Linked DNA regions of Homo sapiens. The protein of the gene in region 3 interacts with the protein of the main gene of each other region in a biochemical or structural test. Each region holds a gene or a part of one and is shown on either strand. Other genes may lie near its edges.

Evidence for each region. Proteins that work in one complex are often made in the same cells at the same time.
Region 1: the proteins of WBP2 (region 3) and WWP2 form a complex in vitro, tested with the Homo sapiens proteins (4 studies listed by BioGRID, with this or other methods).
Region 2: of the proteins of WBP2 (region 3) and NEDD4, one has a biochemical effect on the other in vitro, tested with the Homo sapiens proteins (6 studies listed by BioGRID, with this or other methods).

Annotation. Positions count from the first base shown.
Region 1 is NC_000016.10:69,758,367-69,765,358, reverse strand, and holds the start of WWP2 (NEDD4-like E3 ubiquitin-protein ligase WWP2), read right to left. Parts: upstream 3,028-6,992; 5' UTR 2,968-3,027; intron 1-2,967. UniProt on the Homo sapiens protein: E3 ubiquitin-protein ligase which accepts ubiquitin from an E2 ubiquitin-conjugating enzyme in the form of a thioester and then directly transfers the ubiquitin to targeted substrates.
Region 2 is NC_000015.10:55,826,395-55,829,621, forward strand, and holds the end of NEDD4 (E3 ubiquitin-protein ligase NEDD4), read right to left. Parts: 3' UTR 528-3,227; downstream 1-527. UniProt on the Homo sapiens protein: E3 ubiquitin-protein ligase which accepts ubiquitin from an E2 ubiquitin-conjugating enzyme in the form of a thioester and then directly transfers the ubiquitin to targeted substrates. Specifically ubiquitinates 'Lys-63' in target proteins.
Region 3 is NC_000017.11:75,852,300-75,859,660, forward strand, and holds the start of WBP2 (WW domain-binding protein 2), read right to left. Parts: upstream 3,037-7,361; 5' UTR 2,999-3,036; coding exon 2,940-2,998; intron 2,846-2,939; exon of another isoform or gene 2,825-2,845; intron 1-2,824. UniProt on the Homo sapiens protein: Acts as a transcriptional coactivator of estrogen and progesterone receptors (ESR1 and PGR) upon hormone activation. In presence of estrogen, binds to ESR1-responsive promoters. Synergizes with YAP1 to enhance PGR activity.

The DNA.
Region 1 (6,992 bases), on a different chromosome or scaffold from region 3:
AAGATGGGAGCCACAAGTGCAAGCCACATTTATAATTTTTTATTTTTCTAGGAAATACATTTTAAAAAGAAAAAAGTGCTGGGTTTCAAGTCAAGGTTAAGTGGGAAAAAAAAAGACAAAAAGGTGAAACTTTTTTTCTTTTTCTTTTTCTTTTTTTTGAGACAGGGTCTCACTCTGTCACCTAGGCTAGAGTGCAATGAGTGGCACGATCACAACTCACTGCAGCCTCCACCTCCCCAGGCTTGGGTGATCCTCCCACCTCAGCCTCCTGAGTAGCCAGGCGGGCGCCACTGCACCTGGCTAATTTTTGTATTTTTTGTAGAGACAGGGTTTCACCATGTTGCCCAGGCTGGTCCCAAATTCCTGGGCTCAAGCAATCTATCCACCTTGACCTCCCAAAGTGCTGGAATTATAGGCATGAGCCACCATGTCTGACCAACTATTTATAATTACGTTGTATTTAACCCAATAAATCCAAAATGTTATCATACATGTTTATACATTATATGATCGTTTACTATAACATAAAAAGTATCAATGAGACATTTTACTTTTCTTCATGCTAAGTCTTCAAAATCCAGAATGTATTTTATGCTCACAGCATAGCTCCAGTGCTCAGCAGCCCCATGTGGCTAGTGTACACCATACTGGACTCTACAACAATGCCTGGCAAAGACAGAGTGGGTACTTATAAATATTCACTGAATGAAAGAATGTTTTCCCAGGAAGAGGAAGCTATGGTAGAGTACAGCGTTTTCTAAACTTCATTTACTCACATTCTACATTCACAACTTTTTCTGTGTGATCTTTTTCCTTAAAATGTTACACTTTTTATTCCTGAAAAATTATGTAAAAATAAAACTTTCAGTTGGGCATGGTGACTTACACCTGTAATTGCAACACTTTGAGAGGCCGAGGTGGGAGGATCGCTTGAGCCCCGGAGTTTGAAAACAGCCCGGGCAACATAGCAAAACCCCTGTCTCTACAAAAATTAGCCAGGCGAGGTGGCACCCACCTGTAGTCCCAGCTGTTTGGGAGGCAGACATGGGAGGATCACCCGAGCCCAGGCAGGTCAAGGTTACAGTGAGCCGTGATTGTGCCACTGCACTCCAGCCTGGGCAACAGAGTAAGATCCTGTCTCAAAATAAAATAAAAATAAAATTTTCTATTGTGTCAATAAATGAAAAAGAATGGATCTAAGGATTAAGGGTCTGGGCTTGAGTCCCTACTCATTTACTAGCTCTGAAATCTAAAGTAAGGACTTCATTAAGCCTCAGTCTCTTCATGTGATATAGGGACAATACTGACCATCCCAATTTCAAAGGGAAGGTTAAGTGAGATGTTGGTATACGCTCTTTGTAAATGGGAAAGTAATCATGAAGTGAAAGAGACTGAGAAGCCAATCCAAGCCTTTCTCTCGAGCCTGTTTTCATATGGACCAATGACACAGATAATCACAAGCTTCTCTGACAAGAAAAAGAGTAGAAGACTTGGGTTCAAATCCTTTGTCACCACTTACGCCGGTGTGACTTTTAGAAATGCATTTATTCACCAAATATTTATCAAGTGCTCACAACATGCCAGGCACTAGGCTAGCAGCCAAATAAAATATGAAACCTGCCCTTGAAGGATTTGCAATCTAGCAGGAAGAGGCCAGCAAACAAGAAAGAGCAATAAATTGTTTTAAAAAATCAAGTCGTCTCTCGTAAGTCTGTTTGTTCCCTGTGAAATGAGAATACATCTTCCCAACCTCACTCATAGGCGCTGCTGCAAAAACTAATTTTTAAATGTTTGTCAAATAACTCCAAAAACTTGAACTCATAATACATTAGGAAAGTACTTTTTCCTACTTGTAACCCAAAACGATGCTGGCTGCTGTGAATGTCCAGTTTGAACATTCGTTCCAGTTACACTGCACTCATGAAACTCCTTTTGCTTCTGCAAATTTTAGTAAACATGAGAAACAGGAAGATGAACAGGCTTTAACACAAGTATTCAATCTCAAAATCATGATCCAGGTCACAGTTCTAAGGAACATAACACAGACCTCTCAGGCACCCTACCTAGTTACAGTTCGTCAAGATAAGCAGTCACAAGATAAGCTAAGGGAAACTGAATAATTTAAACGGAAGAAAGAGAAAAGTCATAAAGCAGTCTAGGTAGACACTTCTCTGTCCAAGATTTCAGCAGTCACTATGTTGCTGAGGTAACGCTGGGCTAGGTCAACAGTGTAAGCTAAAAGCCATTTTACAGGCAAAGTGCCCACACTTATTTTTTTAATTTATTTTCTTTTTTTGTTTTTTAAAGCCTCGATGATGGCCCGTTCAGGGAAAATCTCAAAGAAAAATGAGCTGAAGGGCTAGGCTCCCAAGAAGTGGAAACCCTACCCACGCAGGACTAAGTGGGCGCGAGGGAAGCAAGACGATCAAGATTCTGTGATCCCTCCTGAAGTTTAAAAACTGAATGGGACCGTCATCAAAGTCTCGGGTAACAATCATTTCCAAACAGGAAGGAAGGGAGAGACTCTCAGAGGGGGTCCAGGCAGCATCTTTTTCCCTCTGGCTCCACGCCATAAACCCATTTTCAGGCACCCCCTTCCAGCTCAGTTCCAAGTCGCCCCTTCCCCTGGTCCCGATCCCTCCACAAAGATCGCTCCTCTCCATGCCTGGGAACCTAAGCTCCTCTCCCCTTCCGGGAGGACTCGCTCCAGCTGCACCCTTGGCGGCCGGGGCACCCATTTCGGAGCAACCCCCGCGCGGGCCGCGGCGCGCCCACCCCACTCGGGCGGGAGCCGGGACACCCCTCCTCGGAGGCCGGAACCGCCGCGCCAGGCCCCTCCCACAGGAAGCCGCCGCCCCCCGACGCCCGGGCCGCGCCGCCCCCGGCCCACCCCGCGCCGCCCGCCGCCCCCGGCCCGCCCCGTGCAGGCAGCCAGCCCACCGCGCCCCCCGCGCCAGCGCTCGCTACCTGCCGTGGCCACAGAAGCGGCGCCGAACTCCTCTCCTACTTCCGCCTTCCACCGCCCGCACTCGGGCCGGGTCACGTGACCGCGCGCGGTCACCTGACCCGGAAGAGGCTGGCCAGGCTCGCAGGTGCGGGCCACCTAGGCCTGGCCTGGGCACCTCTGGCCTCGAGGAGGCCTTTTTATCGTCTCTGTAGTTGAAAGTGGAAGGGTTTCTGCTCACCGGATGGTCCCAGGCAATCAAATAAATTGAGGGCTCACTGAATGCCACCTACTCTGCCCATCAACCTTATAGAGGCAGGGACAGGTACTAGCCCCATTTTACAGGTGAAACGAGACCTTCAGACTGTTAAGTCAGCAAATACTTAATTGAGCTCCTTTAGTAGGGTTGCCAGATAAAGTACAGGACACCCACTTAAATTTGAATTTCAGATAAACAACAGTGTAATATGTATGTCCCAAATACAGAATGGGACATATTTATACTAAAAAAAGTATTTTTTGATTATCTGAAGATCAAATTGAATTGAGTATCTGTATTTCTATTTCCTGGCAACCTTATGCCTATTATGTGCCAGGCACTGTTCTAAGATCCAGGACCACAAACATCTCAGCCTTTGTGGGGCATCTGTCCTTGTGACATGAAGCAAAAGTACAAAAGCTTAAAAACTCCTGCTTGGCTCCATAAAAAGCCCCTCCACACTAATCCAATCGCATTCCCTTAATCTACAACTACAGGGCACAGAGAACTTAATGAATTATAATCCAGGTAGGTAGGTAGGTAGGTAGGTGGATAGATAGATGATATTTTTTTTTTTTTTTTTGAGATGGAGCCTCGCTCTGTCGCCCAGGCTGGAGTGCAGTGGTGCAGTCTCAGCTGACTGCAACCTCCGTCTCGCCGGTTCATGCAATTCTCCTGCCTCAGCCTCCCGAGTAGCTGGGATTACAGGCGTGCACCACCACGCCTGGCTAATTTTTGCATTTTTAGTAGAGACAGGGTTCCTCCATGTTGACCAGTCTGGTCTCGAACACCTGACTTCAAATGATCCGCCCACCTTGGCCTCCCAAAGTGCTGGGATTACAGGCATGAACCACCGCACCTGGCAGAGAAATATTTTTTTTAAGAGATGGGTCTGGATAGGTTGCTTTGGCTGGGCTCGAACTCCCAGCTTCAAGCAGTCCTCTTGCTTCAGCCTCCCAAGTAGCTGAGACTACAGGCGAATGCCACTGTGCCTGCCCAATAACTTTATTTATTTATTTATTTATTTATTTATTTGCTTGCTTGAGACAGAGTTTCACTCTTGTAGCCCAGGCAGGAGTGCAGTGGCTCAATCTTGGCTCACTGCAACCTCTGCCTCCCAGGTTCAAGCAATTCTCCTTCCTCAGCCTCCTGAGTAGCTGGGACTACAGGCACCCACCACCATGCCTGGCTAATTTTTGTATTTTTAATAGAGATGGGGTTTCACCATGTTGGCCAGGCTGGTCTCAAACTCCTAACCTCAGATGATCCACCTGCCTTGGCCTCCCAAAGTGCTCAGATTATAGGCGTGAGCCAATGCGCCCGGCCTCCAAGAACATTTTAAATAGACATTCTTGACTGATGTTCTGGACAAGTTGAATGAAGGCTCAGTTTAATCACCATTGATTAAAATTAATACTAATGACGTAATTAGCCTCAAAGACTTGTACTAATCTGTTATTTTTGGGTCTTCGAATTGGGATGGATTCTATCATGCATACAAATTAAATTGGCTGGTGGGGCGTGGAGGCTCACGCCTGTAATCCCAGCACTTTGGGAGGCAGAGGCAGGTGGATTACCTGAGGTCGGGAGTTCGAAACCCACTTGGCCAACCTGGTGAAACCCCATCTCTACTAAAACTACAAAAAAAAAAAAAAAAAAGATTCGCCGGGCATGGTCCGGGTGCGGGTAATCCCAGGTACTCCAGAACCTGAGGCAGGAGAATTGCTTGAACCCGGGAGGCGGAGGTGGCAGTGAGCCATGATAACGCCTCTGCACTCCAGCCTGGGCGACAGAGTGAGACTCTGTATCTAAATAAATAAATAGGTTGAACACTTAGTCTCTACTTTTTGTAGTACCACTCCAAATCCAAGAGATTAACTTTCAAGGAGATACAGTCCTGTCTTTGTACATTAAACCCTATATTAGTCTCATTTATAAAACTACTATAACTAAAACTTCTCCAGTTCCATTGATGGCAGTTTTACTAATTCTGTTCTAGATAAATTAGAGACTATTTCCTTGACTTACTAGCATTTGTTGGTTTCGGTTTGTTTTCTTCTTTCATATTTCATTTTTTATCTTTTGTTGCTTTTTTTTAACAACCCTGCAGAAAAGATTTAGTGGCATCTGAGTAAGTGTTCACCAAAGGGGAGAAGGGACAAGCAAAGAGCACACACTGCACATTAAAAGAATAAAATCTGACAGGGTGCGGTGGCTGGCACCTGTAATCCCAGTACTTTGGGAGGCCAAGGCGGGCAGATCAGACTGTCAGGGGCTCGAGATCAGACTGGGCAACATGGTGAAAACCCATCTCTACAAAAAATACAAATATTAGCTGGGCATGGTGGCACACACCCGTAGTCCCAGCTAATCAGGAGCCTGAGGCTTGAGAATCGCTTGAACCTGGGAGGCGGAGGTTGCAGTGAGCCAAGATTGCACACTGGACTCCAGCCTGGATGACAGGGTGAGACTCTGTCTCAAAAAAAAAAAATTGATATGATAAACTAGAAAATGAGAAATAGCCTCCAGCCATACTCTGTTACGGCAGGTAGCACAGGCACGTTCTAGATAATGAAGAGACTGAGTGGTGAGAAAGGTTGAGCCAGGTGCAATGGCTCACGCCTGTAATTCTAGCACTTTGGGAGGCCAAGGCAGGTGGATCACCGTACATCAGGAGTTCGAGACCATCTGGCCAATATGGTGAAACCCCATCTGTACTAAAAATACAAAAATTAGCCAGGCGTGGTGGCGGGCACCCATAATCTCAGCTACACAGGAGGCTGAGGCAGGAGAATTGTTGAACCTGGGAGGCAGAGGTGGCAGTGAGCTGAGATCGCACCACTGTGCTCCAGCCTGGGCGACGAGAGCAAAACTCAGTCCCCTTCCCGCCACCCCAAAAAAAGAGAAAGACTGAATTTGGGTAATTGCTGAAAGGCAATATTCAGTAGCACTGAAGGATTTTTGGGGTAGGACAGATAAATGACAATTGAGGAATCCAGCTGGCGTGAAGACTTCATGAAGAAAGTTTGCATGAAGACCCAAGTCGACATTCAGCAAAATTCACCGGATCTTATAATCATAAAATTTCAGATTTGCAAGGAAACGTAGAAGTCACTAAATACACCTTCTGTTCAATTCAGCAAGGAATTATTTGCTACCAAATTATGTGTGTTGCTTAGGGAGGTGGGGTGAGACTATTAAGACAAATTAGACAGACTCTGGCCCCACGTTGCTCAAAATGAAGTGAAGGCACATAAGCAGCAGTCAGTATAACAGAATGGATAATTAGGTGGCTCAGGGACAGCACCGTGTCTCACACCTGTAATCCCAGCACTTTGGGAGGCCAAGGCTAAAGGACTGCTTGAACCTGGGAGTTTCAGACCAGCCTGGGCAACATGATGAGACTCTCATCTCTACAAAAGTAAAAATGAAAAAACTAGCTGGGCATGGTGGTGTGGGCCTGTGGTGCCAGCTACTCGAGAGGCTGAGGTAGGAGGCTCACTTGAGCCTGGGAGTTCAAGGTTGCAGTGAACTATGATCATGCCACTGCACACCAGCCTGGGCAACAGAGAGAGACCGTGTCTCAAAAAAAAAAAAAAGAAAGAAAGAAAGAAAGAGAGAGAGAGAAAAGGAAAGGAAAGAAAAAAGAAGAGAAGAGAGAAAAAAGTGGCTCTGAATCAGTTTGTCTGGGTGTTACGTTATTTTCACCACTTACTGACCATGTCAGCTACACCTAGTGGCTTTAGTTAGCTATCCCTTGTCTGTAAAACAGTACCTATCTTGGCCGGG
Region 2 (3,227 bases), on a different chromosome or scaffold from region 3:
GCAGAGGGCCATGGCCTAGGTCCCCAAAATTAAAAGCTATGGCCTGGATTATGGCAGAAACAGGGGGCTGGAACAGCACCTTCCCAGGCTGGCTTGAGTGGGTGGGAGTGGATTCCCTTCTAACTGGGAAACTAATTCTCATGCCTGAGAGGAAGGAGGAAAAGACACTTCGTTCTGAATTAACACTCCGAACTCTTTTTCTCATAGAAATGATGTTGTAAATAGTGGTTGGCTACAAGAATGGCTTCTTTGATGAGCAGCAAGGTGCCTGAAATCCAGTCCATTTTTAGCTATTATTTTTATCTTCTGGCTATTTCACTAACAACCAGACTTATGCAATACGACCTTTTTGTAAAGTGGAAATTAATTATCTGTGGTTGAGAGTTTATAATCATGTTAGTTCATCAGGTAATAAGTTTAGGATTGCACTGAAAATTTAACGTGCTGCTGTGAGGAACTAGACCAGAAGACATCACCCAGCATACTGACTTGGAAACACTCCTATTTTATAATGAACCACAGTTTTGTTTTGTTTTTTAAAATCAGAATAGAACTTTATTTGTGGATTCAAGATTTTAAAAAATGATTTTACACTTTAAAGTGTGCAATAAATTTTGATACATCAATCTTGATATATATATTTACTGTGTCAGAAGATTTTAAAAAGTCAAATAGTTTATAATCAAAATGAATTGTGTTTAACTTGATACTTATATGGAATAACTTCAGCATTATAAATAAAAACCCAAAACAAACACCATTTAAATTTGAGTTCTGATGAAATGCATTTGTAATACAATTTTGTTAAAAATTTTTAATAAGAGATTGTAGGCTAAAGTTATATGCTTGTAATTTCTAGAAACATATGATGTCCTTGCTTTATGAAAATGATCCTACTGACTGTCCCGCAGTAGAATGCATTTGAGACACTTTTCTATCTGGGATAAGGGGCTGTGTTGCTTGATAGATGTTTCTTCCAGACCACGAGCCCCTAGTGGGAGATGAAGGGGATGAAGGTCTGCAGCTGGGGACTGGTGGCAGTTGAGTCTGGTCTCATTTAACATCATGTTCTATGAGTCACAGAATCATCCAAATGAGTATCAGCCAGATACAAAGAAAGCTTTGTATTTTCTCATGCTTAGATAGTTCACAAACATAATATTTAAATAATTGTGGCAAAATCCTGTTTTAACAAAAATAATTTTCACATTCCATTCTACATAATGAGGACATTTCCAAAATGCATTGGCCCACATTACTATTACTTTGCTGATATGAAGAAAATGAATTATGATGGTAAGATCCATATACAGATATACACATGTGTATCCATATTATTTATATATTTAATATCAGAAATGTTCCTACTTCCTTGTCTCTTAGAAGTCACTTTACTTTTAAATGATTCTTTGGGAGTGTGGTCAATTTGCACACCTGACTTGACACAATCTGACGGTCAGCACAAAGCACCTTCTGATTGTATAACACTTTACAAAGTACTTTTTGCTTTCTCATCTGTCTGGAACTTCTGACAATCTGGCATGACAATGAGGGTGGGCATGATTACTCTCATTTGACAGATGAAGAAATATGAATCCAGAGAGGTTAAGTAAGCTGCTTCAGTTCACATGGCTGGTGAGATATCAAACCAGGACTATACCTGGTGCTCATCCTTGACTGCTGGTTGACAATGGTGAAGACAAAACGCAGGGTACATTAATCTGTGAATTGCTTCCCCTAAACCATGCTGATGCTGTGGTGTTTGGAAAGTAGAAAGTGGTTTTGCTACTGTCACATTTCAGATTTCTATCAGGTGCTAATGAGTACTCATCATGTTATACCCCAACAAACTTAAACCAAGAACCAGAGGTACTTTTTACAGTTCTCACAGGGTGTGTATATATATATATTTAAGAAGATTCGTAACATATATTTACAATTATTCCTAAATCACCAAGATACCATACTGAGAAATAGGTTTAATCTTTTTAAGAGCATTTTCTATATAATCATTCCAATATAAGGATGAAACAATATAAGTATGAAATATAAATACAGTCTTGGCACACTTTATCTTTGCAGGTGTGCTGGAACCTAGAACACTTTCCCTTTTGCCTTATTCTGCTTACGCCTACTTTTGATTGTTTTACAAATTCATAGACACATTTGCAAGTTCCTTGAGGATCAGGACTCAGCTTCTCTGAAGCTGACAACTCTTACCCCAGAGCATAGCACAGCGCTAGGCACGCAGCATTCAATAAACGTTTGATGAATACATGTACATGGTCTTTATGTACTTCAGTTTGGTTAAAGGAAGATATGAACTGTAGCATTTTGCCTACAGAATTCTGGATTTGTAATTAAAAACATTGTCTTCATAGTAAACAGTATTTTAAAAGGCATAAGAAATAGTAATAAATTTAATACAAATTATGCATTATAACAACTCTTTGGTTATTTTAAACAAATTATTTGGTTTTTTTACTAGAGTGATACTAAAAATATAAAAATGCGACTACAGAAATTAGCTTAATCTGTAAACATGATAAACCCTGTAAACATACATTTACTACATAATTGTACAAGTGTAAAGAATATCTAGTAAAGGCAAGTGCTATACACTTCATTTAGTTCTTCAAGGCATATTTAGAAATACTGCTTTGTGGATCTTTAATGTTTGAAGAAGGAATTCTTCTAACTACACTAAAATATGAAAAAGTGATGACTATACCAATGGTCAATAGGATATGCAGGCAAGAGAAAGGCTTTAATACTTTTTACCCATTGCAAATATGAATTTGCTTCACATGTCTTATGAACCATCTGTTTAGTAAAACTGCATATTAACAAAAGCCAAATACTTCGAAAGTGAAGAAGTAAACAGTTTTTCTGTGAGTTAGTTGGCTAGAAATATAGGTAACACACTTTCCAAAGTTTTTTCCCAAAAATCTAGGCAGTAAGGTGCATAAGGCAGGTCTACAAAATAATAAATAGCTGCGAGTAGCACTAAATATATTGTAGTTTACTCAATAGTAAAGTATTTCTTTTTCCAAATTTCAGTTTTCCATCTCAAAATGCATCAAACTTTTCACACATGACACGTATCACAAATATTTCACAGTTATCATCTCAGTAGTTTAAGAAAAAACTGCCTGGCAGATACTATACAAGAGGTAAATGTTAAGGACAAAATTCACTATTTAAGTCATACAGGACTTATATCCTAT
Region 3 (7,361 bases):
GAAGAAATGAGCAGGTTGGGGGTTCTGTAAAATTTCCCAAACCCCGCTTATAAAGCCCCCAAATGATCAACATGGTAGCAGAGCTACAGGGCTCTGAAGAGGCCATCATCCCTCAAGCAAGTTAGATAATCTGGCTTAACTCTTCTATTTTCTTTATTTTTTTTTTTTTTTTTTGAGACGGAGTCTCACTCTGTCACCCAGGCTGGCGTGCAGTGGCGTGATCTCGGCTCACTGCAAGCTCCGCCTCCTGGGTTCATGCCATTCTCCTGCCTCAGTCTCCCAAGTAGCTGGGACTACAGGCGCCCGCCACCACGACTGGCTAATTTTTTGTATTTTTAGTAGAGACGGGGTTTCACCGTGTTAGCCAGGATGGTCTCGATCTCCTGACTTCGTGATCCACCTGCCTCGGCCTCCCAAAGTGCAGGGATTACAGGCGTGAGCCACTGCGCCCGGCCAACTCTTCTATTTTCTTTTAAGTCCTTGTGATAGATGTTCTGTTTTTGCTGGTTTGTTTTTCAAGCCTAAAATATAAACATGTCTAAGAGATGACTGTACAGATCACAATAGGACGTCCTTCGGGGTTCTTTTAAACCTGGGTTCTTAAGCGGGGTTTGCAGGAAAGTCCATGAAGCCCTTGAGATGATCACGTATGTCATATGTGCATTTTTCTGGGAGGAGAGTCCACAGCTTTCATCATTGTCAAAGGAGTTCACGACTTGAAGAGTAACGTTCACTATTTTAATTATAATTTTTTATTTTTTTGAGACGGAGTTTCACTCTTGTTGCCCAGGCTGCAGTGCAACATAGCGTGATCTCAGCTCACTGCAACCTCCACCTCCTGCGTTCAAGCGATTCTCCTGTCTCAGCCTTCCAAGTAGCTGGGATTACAGGCATGCGCCACCACGCCTGGCTAATTTTTTGTGTTTAGTAGAGACGAGGTTTTACCATGTTGGTCAGGCGGGTTTCAAACTCCTGACCTCAAGTGATCCACCCACCTCAGCCTCCCAAAGTGCTGGGATTACAGGCGTGAGCCACCATGCCCAGCCTAATTATCAAATTTTGGACACTGGACTTAACACTTCAATTGTTATAGATACAACTTTTTCAGACAGCAGGCTGAAGCACTTTCTAAAACAGCAGGCTGAAGGCACACCTTACTTAGCAGGACTGAGCCCTAAGCCAGGTAGAAGGCCGAGCAGGATAGATACATTCTTGTCTCAGAAAGTTCCACAGAGACAGAAAGAAAAACAGTCCCCAGAGATGTTGCCAAATGGCACGAAAAGCTGGCCAGGCCTGGGAACTGACTCACACACAGAGATGCAACAAAACAGTGTGAGGTGTCTCTGATTACATGATAAAAAGGTTCACACGGTTCTGTTTGTCTTCTGCCTCCCCCCATATATCACAACTTTCTCTGACTGGGGAAGGGTAAGTGGGAAACAACTGGTATAAGCAAAGGAAAATGGCTGGGCGCGGTGGCTCACTCCTGTAATCCCAATACTTTGGGAGGCCGAGGAGGGTGGATCACGAGGTCAGGAGTTCGAGACCAGCCTGCCCAACATGGTGAAACCCTATGTCTACTAAAAATACAAAAAATTAGCTGGGTGTAGTGGCGGGTGCCTGTAATGCCAACTACTGGGGAGGCTGAGGCAGGATAATCGCTTGAACCCAGGAGGCGGAGGTTGCAGTGAGCTGAGATCGTGCCACTGCACTCCAGCCTGGGCGACAGAGCAAGCCTCCATCTAAAAAAAAAAAAAAAAAAAAAAAAAAAAGAGAAGAGAAGTACTGCTCAGAGAAAAGAAGGAATTACCAGCAACAGGCTGGGCCCATGAAACTCTGAGCGGGTAAGATAGAGGGAAAGTGAGCATGCTGGGTCACTCTAGGCATTTTCCTCTGACTCATCAAACATTCCCAAGTCACAGGGCAGCTGGATGCTGGCCTTAGCTGGGTACAGGGCTCTGACTCCACGATGTCTCCTTTGGGGACTCAGGTGCCTCCTAAGCTCCTTCTGCCTTCAAGAGGCAATTCAGGGTCGGCATAGTTCAACCCAGGGCTGGCTGGTCTGATTTTCAATACCCAAGGAACAAAAGGAGACAGAGGCCATTTAAGGCTTCTCTTGGCAGAGACTGGAGGAGAGACAGGATGCAATGAGCAAGGGGTGGGGAGGATGGAGTGGAAAGAACCTTGAATTAGGAGAGCTCTGCCTTCCGAGGTGACCCAAACCAACAGGCATTCAAGAGAGAGGCAAGGGAATGACTACGGACCCACACAGTGCCAGGAACTGTTAGACACCTGACAAACGTCATCTGTTTAATTTCACCTCTGGGACCTCAGTTTTTTACCGGGAACCTGAACAGTTCTGGAACATACTGGAAGCCTGTATGCTGGTGGTTAATCCTATTAACTTTGGAGTCAAGACTCCTTTCCTGGAATTACCACCTCTGTTACTTACACAGTTGCGATCTCGGGCAAGTTACTTAACCTTTCTGCCCTCCACTTTCCCTACCTGTGAAATGTGGACAGTAGTAGATTATACTGCACAGAATTTATTAAATAAGGTAGAAAAGGCGCAGAGCCTGACACGTAGTAACGTTGTAGACATCCAATAAGTGACAATTATTTTTGTTTGGGGCTCCTCCCAGCTACTGAAATCACAAGTCTGGGAAGGGGTTCAAGAATCACCCCTAGGCCCCACCGGGGGCCCCATACCAGGTCCCCATGCAGACGTCCCACCCCCGCCTCCCAGCTGATCACAACCTCCCGGGCTCTCCCCCACGGCCCACCCACCTTCCTCCAACCCCGCCCCCAGCCGTTCCCCACCAACCTCACTCCATCAGTGCTCCCTCTTCAGGGGCTTATTCCCCACCACCCACCACCCACCGCCCACTTCCTCGACACCCGAACTTTGGTCCTCCAGGATCCTTCCGCAGTGTTTTCACCTCTCGGTGTTATTGACGATCACTCCGCCGCCCTCCGAGTGATTCTTGTTGAGCGCCATAGTCTCTCCAACAGGGGTCCCGAGACTCAAAACGCAATGAGCTTGCGCCCCTCTTCGCCCCGCCCCTAGTGGCGTCTTCTTATTAGAGTCAGCCAATCAAAGCTCGAGTGCGGAGGCTGGCCCAAACACCTGACCCGAACGTCACGTGGTAATAGTTTACTCCCTCCTTCCAGTTCCTCCTGCGCAACAAACAAGATGAAGACTACAATTCCCAGCAGGCAACGCCCCCGCAGCCTCGGCCTGTCCCTATGCTGGAGGAAGGATGCATTCTGGAACTTGTAGTCTCCTGGATCATAGGCCTGAATTGGTTCCACATTTTGCGTAACCAATCGGCTTGTGCCATCCCCACCCCGCCTCTTCAGCCGGACGGAAATAAACAGTTCCGCTCCTGGCAGGGGCGCGATCTTGGGGACTCCGGCAGCGCGTTAAGGGAAGTCCTGCTGGTCGAATGCGACCTGGACATGGCGTGGGAGCGCCGAGCTGTCCCCTTGTGGATGGGGAGCTTTCGTTCACTCAGCAGACGTTTATGGGGCGCATGCGTGACTCTGGGGCGTTTAGCTGAGCCGGAGGCCCCGGCTCTTGGGGACGCGGTGGGCTGGCGGCGTCGGATCACCCCGCCATCCATCTCACCACTCCCAGCGCTGAGCCCGGGGGGCGGGGAGAGTCCCTCATGGGAAGGGGAGGCCGTGTGCCCCGCCTGGCTCCCACCACGTTCGCAGGCCGGCCGGGCGCCCCTCGCAGCCCCCTCTCCGGCCTCGCGGTGGCGCCGCTCCCCCCTTAGCGCCCAGCGGGGTCCCGGCCGGAAGACTGAAGGCTGAGTGGGACTGGGCACGGCGCGAAACCGGCATCCTGATAACTAGGATTTACAGAATAAGGCTGACTCCTGTCAGCTCGTGACCCAGCCCTGGGCGTCCTCCACGGGGCAGCTGTCATTCCCTAACCGCCCCCCACCAAACCCCTGCACCTCCGAGCTGAATCCGTGAGGCGGAGAGAGGGGGCTGCACTTCCCACGTGGTAGTTCCGGTACTCGTTAATGTTAAGGAATTAGAGTTTGCTTTTCAGTAGACAGCTGCTTTCCTGACTGTGGTGGCCAACCTCTAGATCCACCTGCTTGACTTCGCTTTCCAGGGAGGTCTCCTATGTGAAGAAACAAAGCTGCCTCACTAGAAAAGATCAGGAAACAGCAGCGTTCTGTGAGGTCCTGTGCAATACCAGGTTGGACCTTGCGGGACAAGTACAGTGGGTTAAGGATAGTCATAATGAAATCTGCCCCAATGGTTAGATGTATTTTGGCGCCTGCAATCTCTGCAGTCTTTAAAAAGAATTAAGTCAGACTATGTGCTGATATGGGAAGATCATCAAGGGTTATTAAGCACAGAATGCTGTATACATATAGTTGTATTTGTATAAAAAATAGGATCTAGATAGAAAATTTTTGCAAAGATCCATCAGAAAATGTCTGTGGCATTTTTGAGACATGGGTCTAGGAATTTGGGGTGGATTGGTGACTCGGTATGTCAGTATGCATTGTACTCTTTGGTACTGTTTAATTTTTTTTTCCTATGTGCGTTTAAAATATAAATTTAGGCCGGGCGCGTGGCTCACGCCTGTAATCCCAGCACTCTGGGAGGCCGAGGCGGGCGGATCACGAGGTCAGGAGATCGAGACCATCCTGGCTAACAGAGTGAAACCCCTTATTAAAAATACAAAAAAAAAAAAAAAATTAGCCGGACGTGGTGGCGGGCGGCTGTAGTCCCAGCTACTTGGGAGGCTGAGGCAGGAGAATGGCGTGAACCCGGGAGGCAGAGCTTGCAGTGATCTGAGATTGCGCCACTGCACTCCAGCCTGGGTGACAGAGTGAGACTCCATCTCAAAATAAAATAAAATAAAAATAAATAAATAATATGTAAATTTAAAAAAGAAAAGCAGGCCGGGGTTTGTGGCTCACGCCAAAGGCGTGAGCCAAATTCCAGCACTTTGGGAGGCCAAGGCAGGTGGATCACCTGAGGTCAGGAGTTCAAGACCAGCCTGGCCAACATGGTGAAACTCCATCTCTACTAAAAATACAAAAATTAGCCGGGCATGGTGGCGGGCACCTGTAATCCCAGCTACTCGGGAGGCTGAGGCAGGAGAATCGCTTGAACCTGGGAGGCAGATGTTACAGTGAGCCAAGATCATGCCACTGCATTCCAGCCTAGGCGACAGAGCAAGACTCCATCTCAGAAAAAAGAAAAAGAAAAGCAAAATCCAGGCCTGGTGCCGTGCCTGTAATCCCAGCACTTTGGGAGGCCAAGGTGGGTGGATCACTTGAGGCCAGGAGTTTGAGACCAGCCTGGACTACATGGCAAAATCCCATCTCTATAAAAATACAAAAATTAGGCCGGGCGCGGTGGCTCACACCTGTAATCCCAGCACTTTGGGAGGCCAAGGTCGGCGGATTACCTGAGGTCAGGAGTTCAAGACCAGCTGGCTAACATGGAGAAACCCCGTTTCTACTAAAAAATACCAAAAACTAGCCGGGTGTGGTGTTGTGCGCCTGTAAGCGCCTGTAATCCGCGCGCCTGTAATCCCAACTACTCGGGAGGCTGCGGCAGGAGAATCCCTTGAACCTGGGAGGTGGAGGTTGCAGTGAGCCGAGATCACGCCATTGCACTCCAGCTTGGGCAACAAGAGCAAAACTCCATCCCAAAAAAAAAAAAAAAAACGCAAAAATACAAAAATTAGTTGTGCATGGTGGCGTGGTTCCTGTAATCCCAGCTAATAGGGAGGCTGAGACATGAGAATTGTTTGAACCTGAGAGGCGAAGGTTTCAGTGAGCCAAGATCGTCCCAGTGCACTCCAGCCTGGGCAACAAAGGAAGATTCTGTCTCAAAGAAAAGAAAAAGAAAAAAAGGAAAATCCCCCCAGCAAAGAGCAGGCAGCATTGGCTGCTCTAAGGACCATAAATGGGAAGATGGGGACAACCTGCCCACCCCTCTCCCACCCCTTTGCCAAATACGTTGGAGACAGGAGCAAGTTCAGGTTTTGCCAGGCCTTGAAGCTTATACAATTTTGGAGGCTGTCTTGGTTGTTTATGTTTTTGTTTTTTGAGACAGGGTCTCATTCTGTCACCCAGGTGCGATCATAGCTCACTGCTTCCTTGGAACTCCTGGACTCAAGTGATCTGGAGGCTCTTTTTAAGAAATAAAATACACAGGCCGGGCGCAGTGGCTCATGCCTGTAATCCCAGCACTTTGGGAGGCTGAGGAAGGTGGATCACCTGAGGTCAGGAATTTGAGACCAGCCTGGCCAACGTGGTGAAACCCCGTCTTTACTAAAAATACAAAAAATTAGCTGGGTGTGGTAGCGGTCACCTGTAATCCCAGCTACTCGGGAGGCTGAGGCAGGAGAATCGCTTGAACCCTGGAGACGGAGGTTGCAGTGAGCTGAGATCAAGCCACTGCACTCCAGCCTGGGCAACGAGAGGAAAGCTCTAACTCAAAAAAAAAAAACAACCCCACAATTATTCATTCACAATACTGTGGCTACAGTGAGGCCTCCTGACAGGAGGGGAAATGACAAGAAGAGGAAGTTGCAGTGCAGAGATAACAAGCTTGACCAGCTCCGGCTACAATGTCCAGAATTTCTAAGTTTTACAAAAACATATGACCATGTGAACACACTTCCTGGGCGGCTCCCATGACTTTGGGGCTGGAACGTACCAGAACTCAAAACTCAAACCGAAGACTTCAACAATGGTTTATTGCTGAACCAGGTGAGCAGCAGGAGGCTCCCCTGGGCCCAGGTCTCAGTACTCAGACCTCTCCTCTGGCCTCATACTCCTGTCTGCCTGTCTCCAGATCTCTTTTTCACTGCAGTATGATGCTCATATTCTCCACACTGGAGCACATCTTAGCGGTGCGCTAAGGAGGAGTGCAGGTTGGCCTCAGATACCAGCAGGCAAGGTCTGGGGCAGCTGAGCCCCTGAACTGGTCACCTGTTTTTTCTGTTTATAATTTTATTTATTATTTATGTATTTATTTTTGATACAGGGTCTTGCCCGTCTCCTGGGGTGGAGTGCATTGACATGATCTCTGCTCACTGCAGCCTCCGCCTCCCGGGTTCAAGCAATTCTCATGCCTCAGCCTCCAGAGTAGCTGGGACTACAGAATCGTGCCACCACGCCCAGCTAATCTTTGTATTTTTAGTAGAGATGGGGTTTCACCATGTTGGCCAAGCTGGTCTCAAATTCCTGACCTCAAGTCATCCGCCCACCTAACACTCCCGAAAGTGTTAGGATTACAGGTATGAGCCACCGCCCCCGCCTGGTCGCCTCTTGACTCCCAATAAGATGAATCTGTTTGCCCCAGTGAGCCAAATAAAT